Linked DNA regions of Homo sapiens: region 1 is linked to region 2. The links come from fine-mapping of genetic effects on gene expression. A gene starts in region 2. The other region holds a variant in brackets. All regions are shown on one strand. Distances are from middle to middle. Region 1 holds the start of GPR162 (G protein-coupled receptor 162). Region 2 holds the start of CD4 (CD4 molecule).

Region 1 (9,655 bases), 32 kb after region 2:
ACGCTGTTTTTCCTCGTAGGACTGCATGAAAACCTGCTCTAAAAGGCTAAAAGAAGGTCACCCATATAGAGTATCATTTTAATTGTTCTACTGAATCTCAGGCCTTTGATCTCAGCCTCTCGTTCCTCTGCAGCCACTCAGCTCCAGAAAAATTTGACCTGTGAGGTGTGGGGACCCACCTCCCCTAAGCTGATGCTGAGTTTGAAACTGGAGAACAAGGAGGCAAAGGTCTCGAAGCGGGAGAAGGCGGTGTGGGTGCTGAACCCTGAGGCGGGGATGTGGCAGTGTCTGCTGAGTGACTCGGGACAGGTCCTGCTGGAATCCAACATCAAGGGTAAGGACCCAGGTTCCAAGGCCTCTGCCTCCTGGGCTGCGGGACCTTCCTGTGGTTGGCAGAGACCACCCAGAGTCCCGGCCTCCCAATGCCTGAGTTGGGGGGTTATGGGTATGGTGTCCTCTGTGGTCCCAGGGTGCTTTGGAGGCCCCAAAAGGAGGCATAGAAGTGATGAAGTGAGGTGGGTTGTGGTCCTGGGCTCTAGGCTGCCAGTTGTAATTCTACAAGTTCCCACTCCCTCAGGTCTACAGCCTAGGGATGGGGTCCACCTGACCGAGAGCCCCCCTCCCTGGCTCCTGGCTTTTCTCCAAATCCAGACGCACTTACACACACACTCACACACATACACTCTCACACACATGCACACACTCCCATACACTCTCACACACGCACACACATCACTCACACACTCGCACACACTCATACACACACTACACACACATCCACACTCACACCCACACTCTCACCCCATGTACTCACACCCATGCACTCACACACTGTCACACACTCATACACACACATGTACTCACACATGCATGCACACACACACTTACACATTCACGCACATACTCTCACCCACACACTGTCGTACACGTACACTCACACACTTATACACTCACATCCGCACACGCATTATTCACACATGTGCACACACGCGCGCGCACATGCATGCAGTCACGCACACACATTCATACACGCACACAGGCACACATTCACACACATGCACACACGCACACACATTCACACATGGACTCACACGCGCACACGCGCGCACACACACACATTCACACCATTCACACACGCACACACATGCACACACTCACACATGCACACACACATGCACTCACACACACAGCCCAGGAGCCAGACCACAGCTTCTCTCTCTCCAGAGTGCCCTGGATATGGATATGCCCAAACATAAAACCGATTCCCCAGCACTGGCGGCCTTTGAGAGCCCCCAGGCACCCCTCCCCTCTCCCCCAACCCCAGGGTCAAACCAGAGACTGGCCAGGAGGGATTGCAGGGCAGTCCTCAGTCCCCTGGCCCGTGGAGGAGGGCGGTGCATTGAGCACATTTCTCTCCCTTGCAGTTCTGCCCACATGGTCCACCCCGGTGCAGCCAATGGCCCTGATTGTGCTGGGGGGCGTCGCCGGCCTCCTGCTTTTCATTGGGCTAGGCATCTTCTTCTGTGTCAGGTGCCGGCACCGAAGGGTGAGTAACCCCACACCTGGTCCCCACAAGGCCCTCAAACCCCTGAGTCCTCTACCAGGAGATCCTGTATATGGGAACTGATTTTGGCCCAGCTCCCTCTGCCCACTCGTAAGTTCCCTTGCTGCCCTGTCCCAGATCCCACTCAAGGGAGAGACAGGAAGGAGCAGAGAGTTAATTCCAGGATAGATGGCCTGGGCCATGTAACTGCTTCTCCTGTCGCAGCTTCCCCCACTCCCCCCACCAAGGGGCACCTCCCTTCTGGAGGCCTGGGACCCTCGTGACTCCCTTTCTTGTCCCTGGACAGCGCCAAGCAGAGCGGATGTCTCAGATCAAGAGACTCCTCAGTGAGAAGAAGACCTGCCAGTGTCCTCAGTAAGGATCTGGGAGGAGGGGTTGAGAGAGGGGAAAGGGGGAGGGGGAGGGAGTTAGAGAGGAGGGGGAGGAAGGGGAGCAAAGGGGGGCAGGAAGGGAGGATGGAGAGGAGGAAGGAGTTGAGGAGGAAGAGCTGGGAGGGGTGGAGGTGAGGAGATGGGGGCTAAAGGGGTGTGGTGGAGAGGATAGAGGGGTGGGAAAAGATGGCCAGGAGCTAGAAGGAGGCAGAAGTGGGAGGATGGAGCTGAAGGAGCAGCAGGCCAGGAAAGGCCCTGCTGGAAAGCCACTGGAGCTGTGCTGCGCTGGAAAGGCCATTGGAGGTGCTAGAACGCAAAGGGGTTGCAGTGGGGACAGACCTGCTCCCCTTCTTCTTTGTTCCTGCAGCCGGTTTCAGAAGACATGTAGCCCCATTTGAGGCACGAGGCCAGGCAGATCCCACTTGCAGCCTCCCCAGGTGTCTGCCCCGCGTTTCCTGCCTGCGGACCAGATGAATGTAGCAGATCCCCAGCCTCTGGCCTCCTGTTCGCCTCCTCTACAATTTGCCATTGTTTCTCCTGGGTTAGGCCCCGGCTTCACTGGTTGAGTGTTGCTCTCTAGTTTCCAGAGGCTTAATCACACCGTCCTCCACGCCATTTCCTTTTCCTTCAAGCCTAGCCCTTCTCTCATTATTTCTCTCTGACCCTCTCCCCACTGCTCATTTGGATCCCAGGGGAGTGTTCAGGGCCAGCCCTGGCTGGCATGGAGGGTGAGGCTGGGTGTCTGGAAGCATGGAGCATGGGACTGTTCTTTTACAAGACAGGACCCTGGGACCACAGAGGGCAGGAACTTGCACAAAATCACACAGCCAAGCCAGTCAAGGATGGATGCAGATCCAGAGGTTTCTGGCAGCCAGTACCTCCTGCCCCATGCTGCCCGCTTCTCACCCTATGTGGGTGGGACCACAGACTCACATCCTGACCTTGCACAAACAGCCCCTCTGGACACAGCCCCATGTACACGGCCTCAAGGGATGTCTCACATCCTCTGTCTATTTGAGACTTAGAAAAATCCTACAAGGCTGGCAGTGACAGAACTAAGATGATCATCTCCAGTTTATAGACCAGAACCAGAGCTCAGAGAGGCTAGATGATTGATTACCAAGTGCCGGACTAGCAAGTGCTGGAGTCGGGACTAACCCAGGTCCCTTGTCCCAAGTTCCACTGCTGCCTCTTGAATGCAGGGACAAATGCCACACGGCTCTCACCAGTGGCTAGTGGTGGGTACTCAATGTGTACTTTTGGGTTCACAGAAGCACAGCACCCATGGGAAGGGTCCATCTCAGAGAATTTACGAGCAGGGATGAAGGCCTCCCTGTCTAAAATCCCTCCTTCATCCCCCGCTGGTGGCAGAATCTGTTACCAGAGGACAAAGCCTTTGGCTCTTCTAATCAGAGCGCAAGCTGGGAGCACAGGCACTGCAGGAGAGAATGCCCAGTGACCAGTCACTGACCCTGTGCAGAACCTCCTGGAAGCGAGCTTTGCTGGGAGAGGGGGTAGCTAGCCTGAGAGGGAACCCTCTAAGGGACCTCAAAGGTGATTGTGCCAGGCTCTGCGCCTGCCCCACACCCTCCCTTACCCTCCTCCAGACCATTCAGGACACAGGGAAATCAGGGTTACAAATCTTCTTGATCCACTTCTCTCAGGATCCCCTCTCTTCCTACCCTTCCTCACCACTTCCCTCAGTCCCAACTCCTTTTCCCTATTTCCTTCTCCTCCTGTCTTTAAAGCCTGCCTCTTCCAGGAAGACCCCCCTATTGCTGCTGGGGCTCCCCATTTGCTTACTTTGCATTTGTGCCCACTCTCCACCCCTGCTCCCCTGAGCTGAAATAAAAATACAATAAACTTACTATAAAGATGCTCTTCGTGTGTGTGTGTGTGTGTGTGTGTGTGTGTGTGTGTGTGTGAGAGAGAGAGAGAGAGAGAGACCCCTTCTCTGGGGACCAGGAATCTTCTGGTCTTTGGGGTCGGACCCAGAGGAGAGGTTGCTGGGCGTGCCCCAGGAAGGAGATGAAGTTTCCCTGGAGAGGGAAAAATTCTGTGGAGGCTGGCTACCCACCTCCACAACCCACAGGGCTCTGTGTGGGCCTGTGTGTGTGTGAGGCTGAGACTCTGTAATTACATGTGTGTGATATACCGTGGGGGAGAGACTCAGGGTTGTGTGAGCTCTCCTGGTGTATGTGTGTGGCAGAGAAAAAGGACTATGAGAAACTGTAACATGTGTGTGCAAATTGTATCCCCAACATATGTGTTTGTGTTCCAGGAGGAGGAGGCAGAGTGTGTGTGTCTGTGTGCATGCATGCGCCCACATCCTTTTAGCTTGTGCACAACCACCCCCAACTCCACAAGCAGCCCCAGTGTGCACCACAAGCCCCCTCACTCCCAAACCCAAGGCCCAGCCCTCACACAGATACACACAGTGACACACGCTTCCTCCTCCCCGAACAGCTAGCTCCTCAGTCCCCAACAACACCAGCTGCCTCTTGGAGCTTGTGTTCGTGTTGAAAACGGGAAGGGGTGGGGGCAGGACATGAACCATTTCACCAATGAAGCCGGTTCCCAGCCATCCTCCTCACCGCCCTCCCTCTCAGCGCCTTCCTTGCCCCTCCTCCCCGAGTCACCACCGTCCAGTTCCCCACCCTGCACTCGTTTCCCGCCCCCCCCCGCCCCCCACAAAGCTGTCCTGCCTTCCCTCTGGCCTGGGCTCACTGGCAGGACGACCCCGGGAGAGAGGGTCCTGGAGAGTGAGAGGGGCAGAGACCGAGTGAGCCGTGGGCTGAGCCTGGGAGGCCGGGACTGAGGGGGAGGAGGGAGGCCCGGGGGAAGGGAGGGAGGGAGAGAGGGAAGGAGGGAGGAGGGCGGGCGAGCTGGAGCCGGCAGGCAGCGGGAGCCCGAGAGAGCCGCGTCGGGAGTGCGGTCTCCATGGCAGTGCTGGGCGCAGCCGGAGAGAGGTAAGACGACCCCTGCCTGCCCCGTCCCCTGTGTTGCCTCCCTTTCCCCCTCAAGCTGCCTCCTCTCCCCTAGGCCGGCCCCTCCTCCCCAGCCACCTGCTGTTTCTGCCCTGGAGAACCTGGAGGGGGACAGGAGGGAGGAGCCGCCTGACCTTACCCCTTCACCCCAAAGGGCGAGGGACCCCGTCGGCCAGGGAACCTCCCAGATCCCCCTTCCCACCTTCCTCTGATCTCTCCCTGTCCTTCACCTCCCTCTCTCTGTCCTTCACATCTTTCCTGCCTCCTTCCCTCTCTGACTCCCTATCTCTTTCATCCTGAGCCCACCAGCTGGGCCTGGGTGGAGGTGGGTGGGAAGGGGTCCAGGGCTGTAGGAGAGGACACTGGGGGCTGCTCTTGGCCAAGTCCCTCCACCTCCCTCTGGCTGGCCATTGCCATGGCAACTAGGGTGTACTGGGCTCCGGAGGGAAGCCAAGGGTGGGGGTGGACCAGGACCTCTTGGGGAAAGCAAGGGTCTGAGCTGCTTCCATGGGAAACAGACCCTTTCACTGCTGTGCCCCATTTTTACCCCACTTACCCTAAAGCCATTATGTGCTTCCTTACAGCCCCACTCTGTTCAGGGTTTCACCCGATTCCCTTACCCCCCTTCCCAGGGCTCACTGAAGCTCAGCATCACGCACTAAAACTGGGACCATCCTTCCTCCCATGAGAGGGAAACTGAGGCTCTGGGCCAGGGAGGAAGAGTCAAGGTCTCCCCACGGGGAGTCAGCACCTTATTGAACATTTGGCTTTTCTTCTCAGCCTCCTATTCCCTGCTCCCTCCCTCCCTCCCTCCTCCAGTCCCTCCTCCCTCCAAAGCCTCCTCTCCAGGGGGTTTGAGCTTTTCCTGCTATTTTCAGATACTACCACTTTGCCCCCTCTTTCTCTTCTGCTCAAACTCTCCTCCTTCTCCCTAGTTCCCC[CT/C]CTTTCCATTTCTGGATGCTTCTGATGTCAGCGGTTTCCCCGCCTTCAGGTTCCCTAGCACCCCCTTCGGTCCCAGACTCCTTTCTCCCATTTTCCCAGATATGGGTAGCTGGAGGGTGATCACCCAGGTTTGGGGAAGTAGGGGCTAAGCACCAAGACCCCTGCATCCAGGAGACCGGCAGGTAGGGGAGGAAGGCTGTGATGCCATATCCCAGTTCACTGTGAACCCTCAAGAGGAAACCAGTCTTGTGTCTCCCATCAGTAGTTCTGAAGAGACATTTAGGGACTTGAAGATAGGGGTGGAGTAGTGCTGAGCAGGGGATGTTCTAAGAAGGAACCTGGGAGTTCCAGCGGGAGGAGGAAGGGCTAAAGGAGACAGGGAGGTGGGAATACCTTCTTCCCTAGAGGTCTGGAAGAGTGCGGCTCTCATCTGTGTGGGGTGTTTAGCTGTCAGAGTTAAGGCAAAGGAATGTTCTGAATGACCCTCAGGGCCTTAGTAATCAGTCATGCCTATAGTTTCAAGAAAGGGGGCACAGGAGGCTGATTGGAGACCAGCCCAGGCCCTACCTTTGCCCTCTCCCTCCCACATCTCATCTTTCCCTTGCAGCCTGTCCAGGGGGCTGAGCCCCACCCCCAAATCCCTGGGGCATCCAGAAGATTCCTGACTGGTCAAGAACCAGAGGCAAAAGAGACCTGGAAGTCCCAGCATGGGGACCAGAACCCCCCAGCCAGCCTCATAGTTGGGAAAGTAGCCAGCTTGCCTGCCCCATCAATTGCAGGGATGCTTAAGGAAGGCCCCGCCCAGTATGAAAGCTGAGGATTGCCTCTGCTGACCCTCAGTCTCCTCCCCTGCCCTCTACATCTGCCCTCAGCTGGGTCCATCATGCAATGCTGAGCACTGGGGTGAGCCTGGGGGCAGCCTGCCTGCTGACAGGGCGAGGATTGTGGGGATCATGGGAGTGTTTGTGAGTGGGGCTCCTGGGTGAGACCTAGCCCCCACCCCCACAGAGCTCAAGGGGGTGGGGGGCTGAGGATAGGATGGCTCGGGGCGGGGCGGGGGCAGAGGAGGCCTCCCTGCGCTCCAACGCATTGTCCTGGCTGGCCTGTGGGCTCCTGGCGCTGCTGGCCAATGCCTGGATCATCCTCAGCATCTCGGCCAAGCAGCAGAAGCACAAGCCACTGGAGCTGCTGCTCTGCTTCCTAGCGGGCACACACATACTCATGGCAGCTGTGCCCCTCACCACCTTTGCCGTGGTGCAGCTGCGTCGTCAGGCTTCCTCCGACTATGACTGGAACGAGAGTATCTGCAAGGTCTTCGTGTCCACCTACTACACCCTGGCGCTGGCCACCTGCTTCACGGTCGCCTCCCTCTCCTACCATCGCATGTGGATGGTGCGCTGGCCCGTCAACTACCGCCTCAGCAACGCCAAGAAGCAGGCACTGCATGCCGTCATGGGCATCTGGATGGTCAGCTTCATCCTCTCCACACTGCCCTCCATTGGCTGGCACAACAACGGCGAGCGCTACTATGCCCGCGGCTGCCAGTTCATAGTCTCCAAGATCGGCCTCGGCTTTGGCGTTTGCTTCAGCCTCTTGCTACTTGGGGGAATTGTCATGGGTCTGGTCTGTGTGGCCATCACCTTCTACCAGACACTGTGGGCCCGGCCCCGGAGGGCTCGGCAGGCCCGGAGAGTGGGGGGTGGTGGGGGGACCAAAGCGGGTGGGCCAGGGGCCTTGGGTACCCGGCCAGCTTTTGAGGTACCAGCCATTGTGGTGGAGGATGCCCGAGGGAAGCGGCGGTCCTCGCTGGATGGCTCGGAGTCTGCCAAGACATCCCTGCAGGTCACCAACTTGGTCAGCGCCATCGTCTTTCTCTATGACTCACTCACAGGGGTGCCCATCTTGGTGAGATCGGGGTCCTCCCCACCTGTTCTCCCCAATATCCAGGCCCCAGCATCATCACCTGACCTCCAACTTCATCAGCCATACAGCAGCTCCGTCATCTCTCCTCCAGTTCCATCATCCATCTTCCTCTCCTCTGTCCATCCCCCACTCCATTTGTGGCCCCCATCTTGATCATCTGTCTTTTAGTTCCCACTACCCTGTTTACCCCAGCTCCAGCATCTGCTTCAGTTCCCACTCCTCAGCTCCATCACCGTCCTTCAGTTCCACGACCTGTCCTCCAGCTCCGTCATCCATCCTGCAGCTCCACGGTTCAGCCGCAGACCTCTCATCCAGCCGCTGGGCTCCACTCTCCATTCCCTCCTTCCCTCGGGCTGCCACATGGTCTCTGAGCACTCTTGGCTGGAAATCCCACAGGGCTCACCCCACCACCCCATCTAGTCACTGTTCCTGGGTTCCTGTCTGTCTCTACGGTTCCTGGTCCACCTCTGTTCCTCTCCCTCCTGACCGCAGGGCTTTGTCTCCAGCACTCTCCCCGACCTTCCTCTGAGTCAGTCCCTTCCCTCTGTTCACTCCATCTCCACCTCCGGCTTCGCCTCTGTTGGAGCACAGGGATCAGGCATTACTTCTGACGTCTTGCCCACCAGCTGCACTAGGATATGGGGTTCAGGTGGGCTCCTCAGCTCTGGCCCTGACCCAGCCCGCTCCCACCCTTCCCCAGGTGGTGAGCTTCTTCTCCCTCAAGTCGGACTCGGCGCCCCCCTGGATGGTGCTGGCTGTGCTGTGGTGCTCCATGGCACAGACGCTGCTGCTGCCCTCCTTCATCTGGTCCTGCGAGCGCTACCGCGCCGACGTGCGCACAGTGTGGGAGCAATGCGTGGCCATCATGTCTGAGGAGGATGGAGATGACGGTCAGAGGAGGGGCTGGGCTTTGGCTTTCCTGGACATCTGTCTATTCCCTTTTCTGCCGCTCCTTCTCAGCCAGAGGATGGGCTGCCCTGGAGTGCCCCCTACTGGACAGAATCTGCACCACCCTGGGCTCCCCTTTCCCTAAGCAGGCACCCTGCTGTCCACTCACTGCTTCCCGCAGCACTCAGGGCTCCCTTCACTGGGCCTAGGCTCCCCTCCAGAAACCCACACTGCCCAGCTCTGGCACTATGGGGAACCTGAGCTTCCCGAGAGAGGCCCCCCAGCTATAGGGACGGCTCTTGGGGGAGTGCAGGCAATTGTTTCAATAACTTCATCTATATGTATGAAGCACTCCACTCAGGATTTAGCACTGAACGCAGCAAATGCTAGCCACTCTCACTGTCCTCTTGGAACATACATGCTAATGGGAACTAAAGGGGTCTCTGGGAGCTTATAAAGGCAGTGGTGGGAGGCCGCGGTAGGCATTCCCTACCTGTAACCACTCTGCCCATTTTCTCTCCTAGATGGGGGCTGTGACGACTATGCAGAGGGCCGAGTTTGCAAAGTTCGCTTTGATGCTAACGGAGCCACAGGACCAGGGAGCCGGGACCCCGCCCAGGTGAAGCTGCTGCCTGGAAGGCACATGCTCTTCCCTCCTCTTGAGAGAGTCCACTACTTACAGGTATGGAACTGGGGGATACATCTCCTACCCTTGGTGCCGCTCATCACTTTTCTCCAGTGTCTGTTAGGCACCCCAATCCCCTCTTCCCTAGCCCTGGCTTTCAGGGCACCATAGAGCTGGGTGAAAGAAAGCTATAGCAAGAGAGGCATCCCTTCAGACCTCGTGGGGCCAGGTTTGCCCACCGGAGCAAACGTTTTGAAGGTTAAGAAGGTGGCACCATCTTCCGGAGTCCCCACTTGGTTCCTGCCTCTGCCTCTGTCCCTGCAGCACCTTCAGGTCTTACCCGCTCCTCTTCCCA
Region 2 (9,655 bases):
CTCAGGACCGTTGACTTCCAGGCCACAGACTCACAGAGCTGCAAGTTCTCACACCGTCCATCGGGTCTGGAATCTGCAAACCGGTGGGCCCAAAGCTAGAGCCAGCCCTTGGAATGCTCTGTTTGCTCTACCCAGTGTCACGACAAGTTGAAAAAATTTGTTACCAATATTAAAATCAGGAGGTATTACATAAATGTCTGGTTTTCACCTTCTCTAGAAATTTTGGCAGAGCAGGCAACTCTAGGCTCACATGCCAGTATAGCCTCTACGGTCAACTCAGACAGCTATGCAGGGAATGGCTGCCCTTAACTAGCTGAGGCAAGTACTCTCTGGTTTCCCCCAGTCCCTACCCTTCCCTTTTGGTCACCACCAGTGTACCTTTCTCATTTGCACTACCTAGGGGGCTCCTGTAAGCATTTACATTTGTAGCCCTGCTCTCCTGCTCTTGTCCATACTTCTCTATTTATCCATTCAAAAATTATTTGGCCTGGTGCAGTGGCTCACGCCTATAATCCCAGCACTTTGGGAGGCAGAGGCAGGAGAATCACTTGAGGTCAGGAGTTCGAGACCAGCCTGGCCAACATGGTGAAACCCTGTCTGTACTAAAAATACAAAAATTAGCCAGGCTTGGTGGCGCACGCCTGTAATCCCAGATACTCGGGAGTCTGAGGCAGGAGATTCGCTTGAACCTGGGAGGCGGAGGTTGCAGTGAGCCGAGATCACACCACTGCACTCGAGCCTCGGCGACAGAGCAAGACTCTGTTTCCAAAAAAAAAAGAAAAGAAAAAAGAAAAAAAAATATTATTCAATAGCCAGGAGTTGCAGGGAGTTAGAATGAGGAGTCAGTATTTAATGGGTACAGAGTTTCATTTGGGGAAGATGAAAAATTTCTAGATGGTTACACAACCATGTGAGTGTACTCAGTCCCACAGAGCAGTACATTAAAAAATGCCTAAAATGGCCGGGTGTGGTGACTCACACCTGTAATCCCAACACTTTGGGAGGCCAAGGTGAGCAGATCACTTGAGGTCAGGAATTCGAGACCAGCCTGGCCAACATGGTGAAACCCCGTCTTTACTAAAAATACAAAAATTAGCCAGGCGTGGTGGCGGGCACCTGTAGTCCCAGCTACTCGGGAGGCTGAGGCTGGAGAATCGCTTGAACCCAGGAGGTGGAGGTTGCAGTGAACCTAGATTGTGCCACTGCACTCCAGCCTGGGGGACAGAGTAAGACTCCGTCTTGGAAAAAAAAAAAAAAAAAGCTTAAAATGGAAAATCTTATGTTGCGTGTATTTTACCGCAATAAATTTAATATCAATAAAATTTAATATATTAGGAAAATATTAAACAAGCATTAAGGGTCTTCCAGGGCCAAGGCATCTGTGAGGGTGCTGGGAACATAGTGCTAACTAAGACAGACACGGTCACCGCTCTGGCCTGTGAGCTAGACACTAAGCAGCAAATAACTTCATTGCAACTGGAAAATTGCTACGAAGGGAGAAGCACAGGGGACTGGGAGATCTTATCACAAGGAAAACTGATTTCAACTGAGGAACCTGAGTATCCTCTGAGACTCTGGGGAGGAAGTCCTGTGCAGGAGAATGGTAGAGCAACAAAATATAAACAGCCCCAATCTTGGCCCTGGAGGACGGCGTGCTGCTCCCTCTCTTCTGCACCACCCACCTCCACACTTCCTACATGTGAAAAATAACTTCAATCTTGTTGAAGCCTCTATTATTTTGGGTTTTCTTTTGCTTGTAGCAGAACCCAGTGCTTACCGATAGACAATTCTCCCAGTTGAAAGAAGGTTCTTTTGTGATAAGATCTCCCAGCACCTTGTGCTTTTTCCTTTGTAGCGCTTGTCGAATTGTAATGAAGTTGTTCGTTGTTTAGTGTCTATGTCATAAGCTGGAGTGGTGACCATATCTGTCTTCTTCAACATCACATCCCCAGCTACCTAGCAGAGTGCCTTGGGCTGGTACACGCTTAACTACGTACATGAATGAATGGAGCAGGGCTCAAAACATCAATGCCTACCAGAGCCTGCCAGGTAATGTAAATGAGAAAAGCAGACTGGCTGTGAACAATAGGGAGGGTGTTTGCTTTCTAGTCTGAAGGAAGAAGGCCTGAGGAGGATACATTTTCCCCACTTTGAGGAGCAACTCTGAGGTTGCACCTAATACTTTCACTTCTATCTATTAACCAAAATTGAGTCACTTGGACACATCCAGCTGTGAGGGAGGCTGGGAAGTATATTTTAAATCTGGGTAGCTAAGAGCTCAGCTAAAAATTGAGGGTTCTATTACCAAGAAGGAGAAAATAGACTTTGGGGACAGCTAAAGCGATAGCTGAGATCTGAAGAATGAATAAAAATTACCTAGATCAGTGGTTCTCAGAGTGAAGTGTGGCCTGCAGACCCTTGGGAGTCCCTGAGACCCTTTCAGGGGATCTTCAAGGTCAAGCTATTTTCATAAAAAAATACAGGATGTTATTTTCCTTTGTCACTATGTTGACATTGCAATAATGTTGCAAAAACAATCTGGATAAAACTGCTGCCTTAGCATAAATGAAGGCAGTGGTGCCAAACCATATGATAGTCATTGCATTCTTCACTGCCAGGTACTTACAGTAAAAAAAGAAAAAAAATTAATGCCACTTTTACTTAAGAATGCCCTTAATGAGGCCGGGCGCAGTGGCTCGTGCCTGTAATCCCAGCACTTTGGGAGGCCGAAGCGGGCAGATCAGGATCACCTGAGGTCAGGAGTTCAAGACCAGCCTGGCCAACGAGTGAAACCCTGTCTCTACAAAAATACAAAAATTAGCCAGGCATGTTGGCGGGTGCCTGTAATCCCAGCTACTCGGGAGGCTGAGGCAGGAGAATGGCTTGAATCCAGGAGGCGGAGGTTGTAGTAAGCCGAAATCATGCTGCTGCACTTCAGCCTGGATGACAAAGCAAGACTCTGTCTCAAAAAAAAAAAAAAAAAAAAGAGAGATCAAGACCATCCTGGGCAACATGGTGAAACCCCATCTCTACTAAAGATACAAAAATTAGCTGGGCATTGTGGCGCATGCCTGTAGCCCCAGCTACTTGGGAGGCTGAGGCAGGAGAATTGCTTGAACCCGGGAGGCAGAGGTTGCAGTGAGCCAAGATCACGCCACTGCACTCTAGCCTGGGCAACAGAGTGAGACTCCCTCTCAAAAAAAAAAAAAAAAAAAAATATATATATATATATATATAGAATGCCTTTAATGAAGCAGTAAATACTAATTTTATTAAATCTCAACCCTTGAGTACGGTGTGTCATGAAATGAGAAGTAGCACACAGTACTATATGCTACAGATGAAGTACAATGCTGTCAAATAGGGGTACTTGTGTTAATTGTTGGAGTCGCAAGCTGAACTAGAGTTTTCTTTTCTTTTCTTTTCTTTTCTTCTTTTCAAGACAGGTTCTCACTCTGTCACTCAGGCTAGAGTGCAGTGGTGCAATCACGGTTCACTGCAGCCTCAACTTCCTGGGCTCAAGCGATCCCCCCACCTCGGCCTCCTAAAATGCTGGGATTATAGGCATGAGCCACCACTCCCAGCCCCACTTTTTTCAGACTGGAAAACGCACACTCACATGTGCATCTTTAAATGATCACTTGGGCTGTGGTATGGAGAATGGCGACCAGTGAGGAGGCAGGAGCTGTTGTCCGAGCAAGGGATGATATTGGCATCTTGGATTGGCATGGTGGCAGTAGTGGTAGTGCAGAGTGACTTGGGTAGATTTTGGAGCCATTTAGAAGGTAACATCCACAGGAACTGGTAAATAAATACGTGGGAGAAGTTGGGTGAAGGGGGTGTCAAAGATTACACCCAATTTATTTTGCTTGGGCAAGTTGGTGGATGGTGAGCCCCTCACTGAGTGAGAAGCCTGGAGAAGCAGGTTTGGAGGGTGGTAGTATGCAGGTGGTATGCATAGTTGGGGATGTGTGTTGAGTTTGCTATGTCCGGTGAGCTTCCCAGTGGAGATGTCCAATGGGCAGACGGATACTCACATAGAGAGTTCATGGTAGATTCGGGCTAGAGGAAAGCACCTGAGGCCTGGCCAGAGACGCCTAGAGGAACAGAGCCTGGTTAACAGTCACTCCTGGTGTCTCAGATATTCTCTGCTCAGCCCACGCCCTCTCTTCCACACTGGGCCACCTATAAAGCCTCCACAGATACCCCTGGGGCACCCACTGGACACATGCCCTCAGGGCCCCAGAGCAAGGAGCTGTTTGTGGGCTTACCACTGCTGTTCCCATATGCCCCCAACTGCCTCCCACTTCTTTCCCCACAGCCTGGTCAGACATGGCGCTACCACTAATGGAATCTTTCTTGCCATCTTTTTCTTGCCGCTTAACAGTGGCAGTGACAGTTTGACTCCTGATTTAAGCCTGATTCTGCTTAACTTTTTCCCTTGACTTTGGCATTTTCACTTTGACATGTTCCCTGAGAGCCTGGGGGGTGGGGAACCCAGCTCCAGCTGGTGACGTTTGGGGCCGGCCCAGGCCTAGGGTGTGGAGGAGCCTTGCCATCGGGCTTCCTGTCTCTCTTCATTTAAGCACGACTCTGCAGAAGGAACAAAGCACCCTCCCCACTGGGCTCCTGGTTGCAGAGCTCCAAGTCCTCACACAGATACGCCTGTTTGAGAAGCAGCGGGCAAGAAAGACGCAAGCCCAGAGGTAAGGTGGTCAGACTCGGCTTCCTTCCCCGGAGCTGAGAGGGAGGGGAACGTGGGGCAGATGCACAGGAATGTGCTCTGCCCAGTTGTCTGCCCACAGCTCTGGCCACCTTCTCTTGCATTTCTCTTGGAACTGGTCATGAGCAGCGATTTCCCACTGGAACTGTGAGCTTCCAGAGGTCAGAGACTGTGCTAGACTCCTCTCTGCAGCCCCAGCGTGCACAGCTCAGTGTCCAGAGCAATGGGTGCTCCTTAGAGGAGTAGTGACCTAAATAGCAAGATCAGAGAGGGAGTGAAGACTGGAGACTATCCCAGGCTGGGAAAGGCGTGGAAGGCAACTAGTCGTGGGCAGTTGAGGGGAGAAGACTGGAAGAGGGGAAAAGAGGAGAAAAAGAGTGAAGAAGGGGAGGGAAAAAATTAGAAAGAATAAATAAATATAAGGTGGGAGGAAACCTATAAAAAAGAAATGATGAGGAAAAACATAAAAACAAGAAAAAGAGCAAAAGAAGTGGAATCTAGTCTAGAGAAAATTCTTGCAAAACCAATTTTCCTTAACGGGACAATCTCCAAAAATTGACACCAAATATCATACTTGCAGCATTTCATAAGTCGCATGATCTATGTAATAGTCTCTTTTAACTACCTTTTGTGTTTCTGTGTGTATTTTTAAATTTTTGTCTGCTTCTTTGCTCTTTTAAGATTTTTGAACAATGTCTAAAGGCACTTCTACTCTAGTTAGCTTTAAAATGATTCATGAAATAGGAAAGCTAAAATTCTCAGAAAGTGTTGAAACTGAGCTTTTGCGTATGAATTGCCCTAAAAGTTGCAGATACATATCTTTAGATAAATATGTCATTTAAGAAACGGATTCGAAAAGAATTGGTGGTAGGGGTCTCATGAGGCCGGGAGAGTTACAGAAGGATGTGCAGCCCCTCCTGGGCCTGGCAGGGTGTGAGGGAGAGTGAGGACTCACTGTCCCTCCTGAAGGGAAGCCCTGTGCCATCTCAGCCTTTCCGCCCTCAGACCTTTCCAGCCCCTGAGACCTCATGGCCTTGAAGCCGTGCTATCCCCAGTGTCCTCTGCTTTCCCCTCATAGGCTTCTTCTGGGAGAGAGGTTTCCTGGGGTACGTTCTGATCCCTCAAAACGGAAAGGCCCTGTTCTCAATAATTCAAAGATTTCACTCTGAGTGGGATAGTGCTTCCTGAATGCCCTGCTCTTGTGGTGGACATTTTTATCGGGGCAAGGCTAAGAGCAGGGCCTGATGGGGGAAGTCACTGCTACTTCACATTTTGACCAATAATTCCTTGTGCTGTATCAGATGCTGTAGGCTGATACAAAATGGCCGCCGCCCTCAAAGTCAGATGAAAGAGCCCCTGAGGACAGCGTTAGAGACACTCGGGAGATGATTTCCCTCTTTCAATGTGGGAGCACTTACATAGGAGAGGTCTATATCTAGATAAAAACTCCTCCCACCACTGGTGCTAGACAGAGCTTGGGGGCAGCCCTAGGCTCTGACCCTGGCCGTAATGGCGGGGTGGTGCTGAGGGCAATTGGCTAGACCAATTGTCTTGCACGTTTTATTTTTTATTATTATTTTTGAGACGGAGTCTCGCTCTCTTGCCCAGGCTGGAGTGCAATGACGTGATCTCCACTCACTGCAGCCTCCACCTCCTGGGTTCAAGCGATTCTCCTGCCTCAGCCTCTTGAGTAGCTGGGATTACAGGAGCCCAACACCACGCCCGGCTACTTTTTGTATTTTTAGTAGAGACCAGGTTTCACTATGTTGGACAGGCTGGCCTCAAACTCCTGGCCTCAAATGATCCGCCCGCCTTGGCCTCCCAAAGTGCTGGCATTACAGACGTGAGCCACCATACTGGGCCAGTCTTGCACATTTTAGACACTCAATAAATGTTTGTTGAATGAAATACCTGTGATGGGCCGGGCGTGGTGGCCCACACCAGTAATCCCAGCCCTTTGAGAGGCCGAGGCAGGAGGATGGCTTGAACCTGGGAGTTTGAGACCAGCCTGGGCAACATGGTGAAACCCCCATCTCTACAAACCCCACAAAAGTTAGCTGGGCATGGTAGTGTGTGCCTGTGGTTCCAGCTACTTGGGAAGCTGAGGTGGGAGGATTGCTTGAGCCTGGGAGACGGAGGCTGCAGTGAGGCCTGACTGTGCCACTGCACTCCAGCCTGGGCGAGAGTGAGGCCCTGTCTCAAAATAACTTTGATGAAGGTGGGGAATCAGAAGTAGGTGGGCAGGGGTCTGGGTTTGCAAGGCTCTGAGTTTGAGCTCTGTTCTGTACCTTTGAGGGGATGAGGGAAGGAGGGTGGGCACGGTTCCCCCGATGTGGGTGTCTGAGGCGAAGAAGAGGATGGCGGAGGTTGCAGCCACCAACCACAAGAGTTCCTTAGAGGGGTCACAGTCTCTAGGAAGTTTATAGGAAGCTAGTCAGCAGTAGAGAGGGTGAACGCGGTGGGGCACATCCCGCGGCTGGGCTTGAGTGGGCTGCTTGGGGGTTATGGGGAGAAGATAAAAGTGCCTGTGGGACCACAGACTCTCGCTGTGGTGGAGCTGGGCCCTCTTACCCTCCCAAGCCTCGCCCCTCATCCCATCCCTGGGGGCCAGGGGTGAGGGCGGCAGGAACCTCAAGGCTCTGAGAAAGTGCGTGGTGTGTGTTGCCATTTTGGTCTCTTCTCTTTCTCAGTCTCTCTTTGCCTCACTTTGGATCTATGCTCTGTGCATCTGTCTTGCTTCTCAGAATTTCTTCTTTTCCTCTTTTTTTGTACTACCCTGCGCTTTGTGTGTGATTGTGGATTGTGTGTGCATAGCTGTTGCTTTAACAAGCTGCTCCAGGTCTCTCTCTCCCACATCTTTCCCTCCCCTCCTCCCTTGAGGCTCTGTGCATTCTGGGGAACTCTGTCCATTTCCCTTTGTCCATGTGTCCCTCCCACCCTGCAGCCGGCTCCCTCACATCCACCCTGGGCTGCAGGCGTGCTCGGCAGGCTCCCCACAGATCAAAGCTTGTCCAGGGTCTGCATTGCTGCCAAAGGCCAGGAGGACTGTGTACAGACCGGAAGGAGCTAGAGCTTAGTGGCAGCCTGAGAGGGGAAGCTGAAAAAGGAGAAGAGGCAAGGGGCATTCCAGGGGAGCCCGGGAGAGCCAGCACGGCCGCCTGGTATATGAGGCAAAGAGGAAGACAGACACAGACACAGGGAGCTGCAGGCTGGGGGCATAAGCTGGGGGCTGGGAAGCATAGATACAGAAATGCACAGATGTGAGCTGAGAAGCAAGGAGGGAGAGAGAGAGACAGAAAGAGAGAGAGAGACGTGCCAGGGCTTGAGGGACCAGAGAGCCCTCCCAGCCTCTCTCGGAGTGCTGGTATACAGGATGCTACCGTACTAGGGTAAGACACCTCTGGGGACGCTGAGTATGGGAATCAAAGGCCAGATCTCTGGGGTGGCAGCGGAAGCCCAAAGCACCAAAGCAAGCATGCTGGAAACCCACAGCCTCCTCCACTTAGCAGAGCCTTGGGGTGAGATGAGGCAGAACAGGGAGCTGGAGGCAGGGAGGTGGCTGTCTGCACATACCTCAGGACCATGGAGCTGGGGGAGTCAAAACAGCCACCATATGGGGAAGGGTCAAGAATGCCTCTAGTCTTCCCCAGGCATCTTATCAGGGTAAGCTGAATTTGGACCCCAGAGAAGGGATATCGTTTATGGAGACTTCCCCTCTTTCATCCCCTGCTCACCAAGGACCCAGTCAGTCTGGGATGGGGGACAGTGGGAACCACTCTTTGGTATGAGGCTACTCCTATTCTACTCTTCTCACTGCAGCCTTCCCCTAGATGCCTCCCATCTGCATGCTAACCTGTAAACACTTCACCATCACTGGTGGCTAGTCTCCCTTCCTCCTTTTTCAGAAACCTCCTTCCTGACCTCTTTTCTTCCTACTTCCCCGGTTTAAACAAAATTGTATCTATCTATCATCTATCTATCTATCTATCTATCTATCTATCTATCTATCTATCTATCTATCTATCTTTTTTTTTTTTGAGACAAAATCTCACTCTGTCGCCCAGGCTGTAGTGCAGTGGCACTACAAGTAATCCCAAGTAGCTGAGATTACAGGCGCCCGCCACCATCCCCAGCTAATTTTTTTGTATTTTTAGTAGACACGGGGGTTTCATGATGTTGGCCAGGCTGGTCTCAAACTCCTGGCCTCAAGTGATCTGCCTGCCTCGGCCTCCCAAGGTGCTGGATTATAGGTATGAGCCACCACACACGACACCCGGCTTCTATCTATCTATATCTATCTATCTATCTATCTATCTATCTATCTATCACCTATCTATCTAATCTATCTATATCTGTCTATCTATCTTTATGTATCTATCTTATCTATTGATCTATCTATCTTTTTTTTTTTTTGAGACAGAGTCACTCTGTCACCCAGGCTGGAGTGCAGTGGCACGATCTCGGCTCACTGCAACCTCCGCCTCCCGGGTTCAAGCGATTCTCCTACCTCAGCCTCCTCAGTAGCTGGGACTACCCACCACCACTCCTGGCTAATTTTTGTATTTTCAGTAGAGATAGGGTTTCACTATGTTGGCCAGGCTGGTCTCCAACTCCTGACCTAAAGTGATCCACCCACCTTGGTTTCCCAAAGTGCTGGGATTACAGGCGTGAGCCACCGTGCCTGGACATATATCTATCTTTTTTTTTTTTGAGATGGAGTCTCGCTCTGTTGCCCAGGCTGGAGTGCAGTGGCGTGATTTCGGCTCACTGCAACCTCCGCCTCCCGGGTTCAAGTGATTCTCCTGCCTCAGCCTCCCAAGTAGCTGAGATTACAGACGTGCGTCACCATGCCCAGCTAATTTTTGTATTTTTAGTAGAGATGGGATTTCACTATGTTGGCCAGGCTGGTCTCGTACTCCCGACCTCAGGTGA

What was found.
Region 1: its variant is fine-mapped to the expression of CD4 in whole blood (TOPMed, PIP above 0.99).

The regions. Positions count from the first base shown.
Region 1 is chr12:6,816,997-6,826,651 of GRCh38, forward strand. CD4 (CD4 molecule) reads left to right here. Exons shown (of 10, transcript NM_000616.5): 7 at 134-334; 8 at 1,425-1,546; 9 at 1,851-1,918; 10 at 2,303-3,803. The coding sequence ends at 2,333. GPR162 (G protein-coupled receptor 162) reads left to right here and starts at 4,825. Exons shown (of 5, transcript NM_019858.2): 1 at 4,825-4,904; 2 at 6,472-7,769; 3 at 8,488-8,677; 4 at 9,200-9,357. The coding sequence starts at 6,903. RefSeq lists enhancers at 1,864-2,364, 2,365-2,865, 3,836-4,808. The variant CT/C (reference allele first, on the strand shown) is at 5,864.
Region 2 is chr12:6,784,957-6,794,611 of GRCh38, forward strand. CD4 (CD4 molecule) reads left to right here and starts at 4,572. Exons shown (of 10, transcript NM_000616.5): 1 at 4,572-4,706. RefSeq lists a silencer at 1,827-2,121 and enhancers at 4,056-4,613, 4,429-4,478, 7,594-7,643.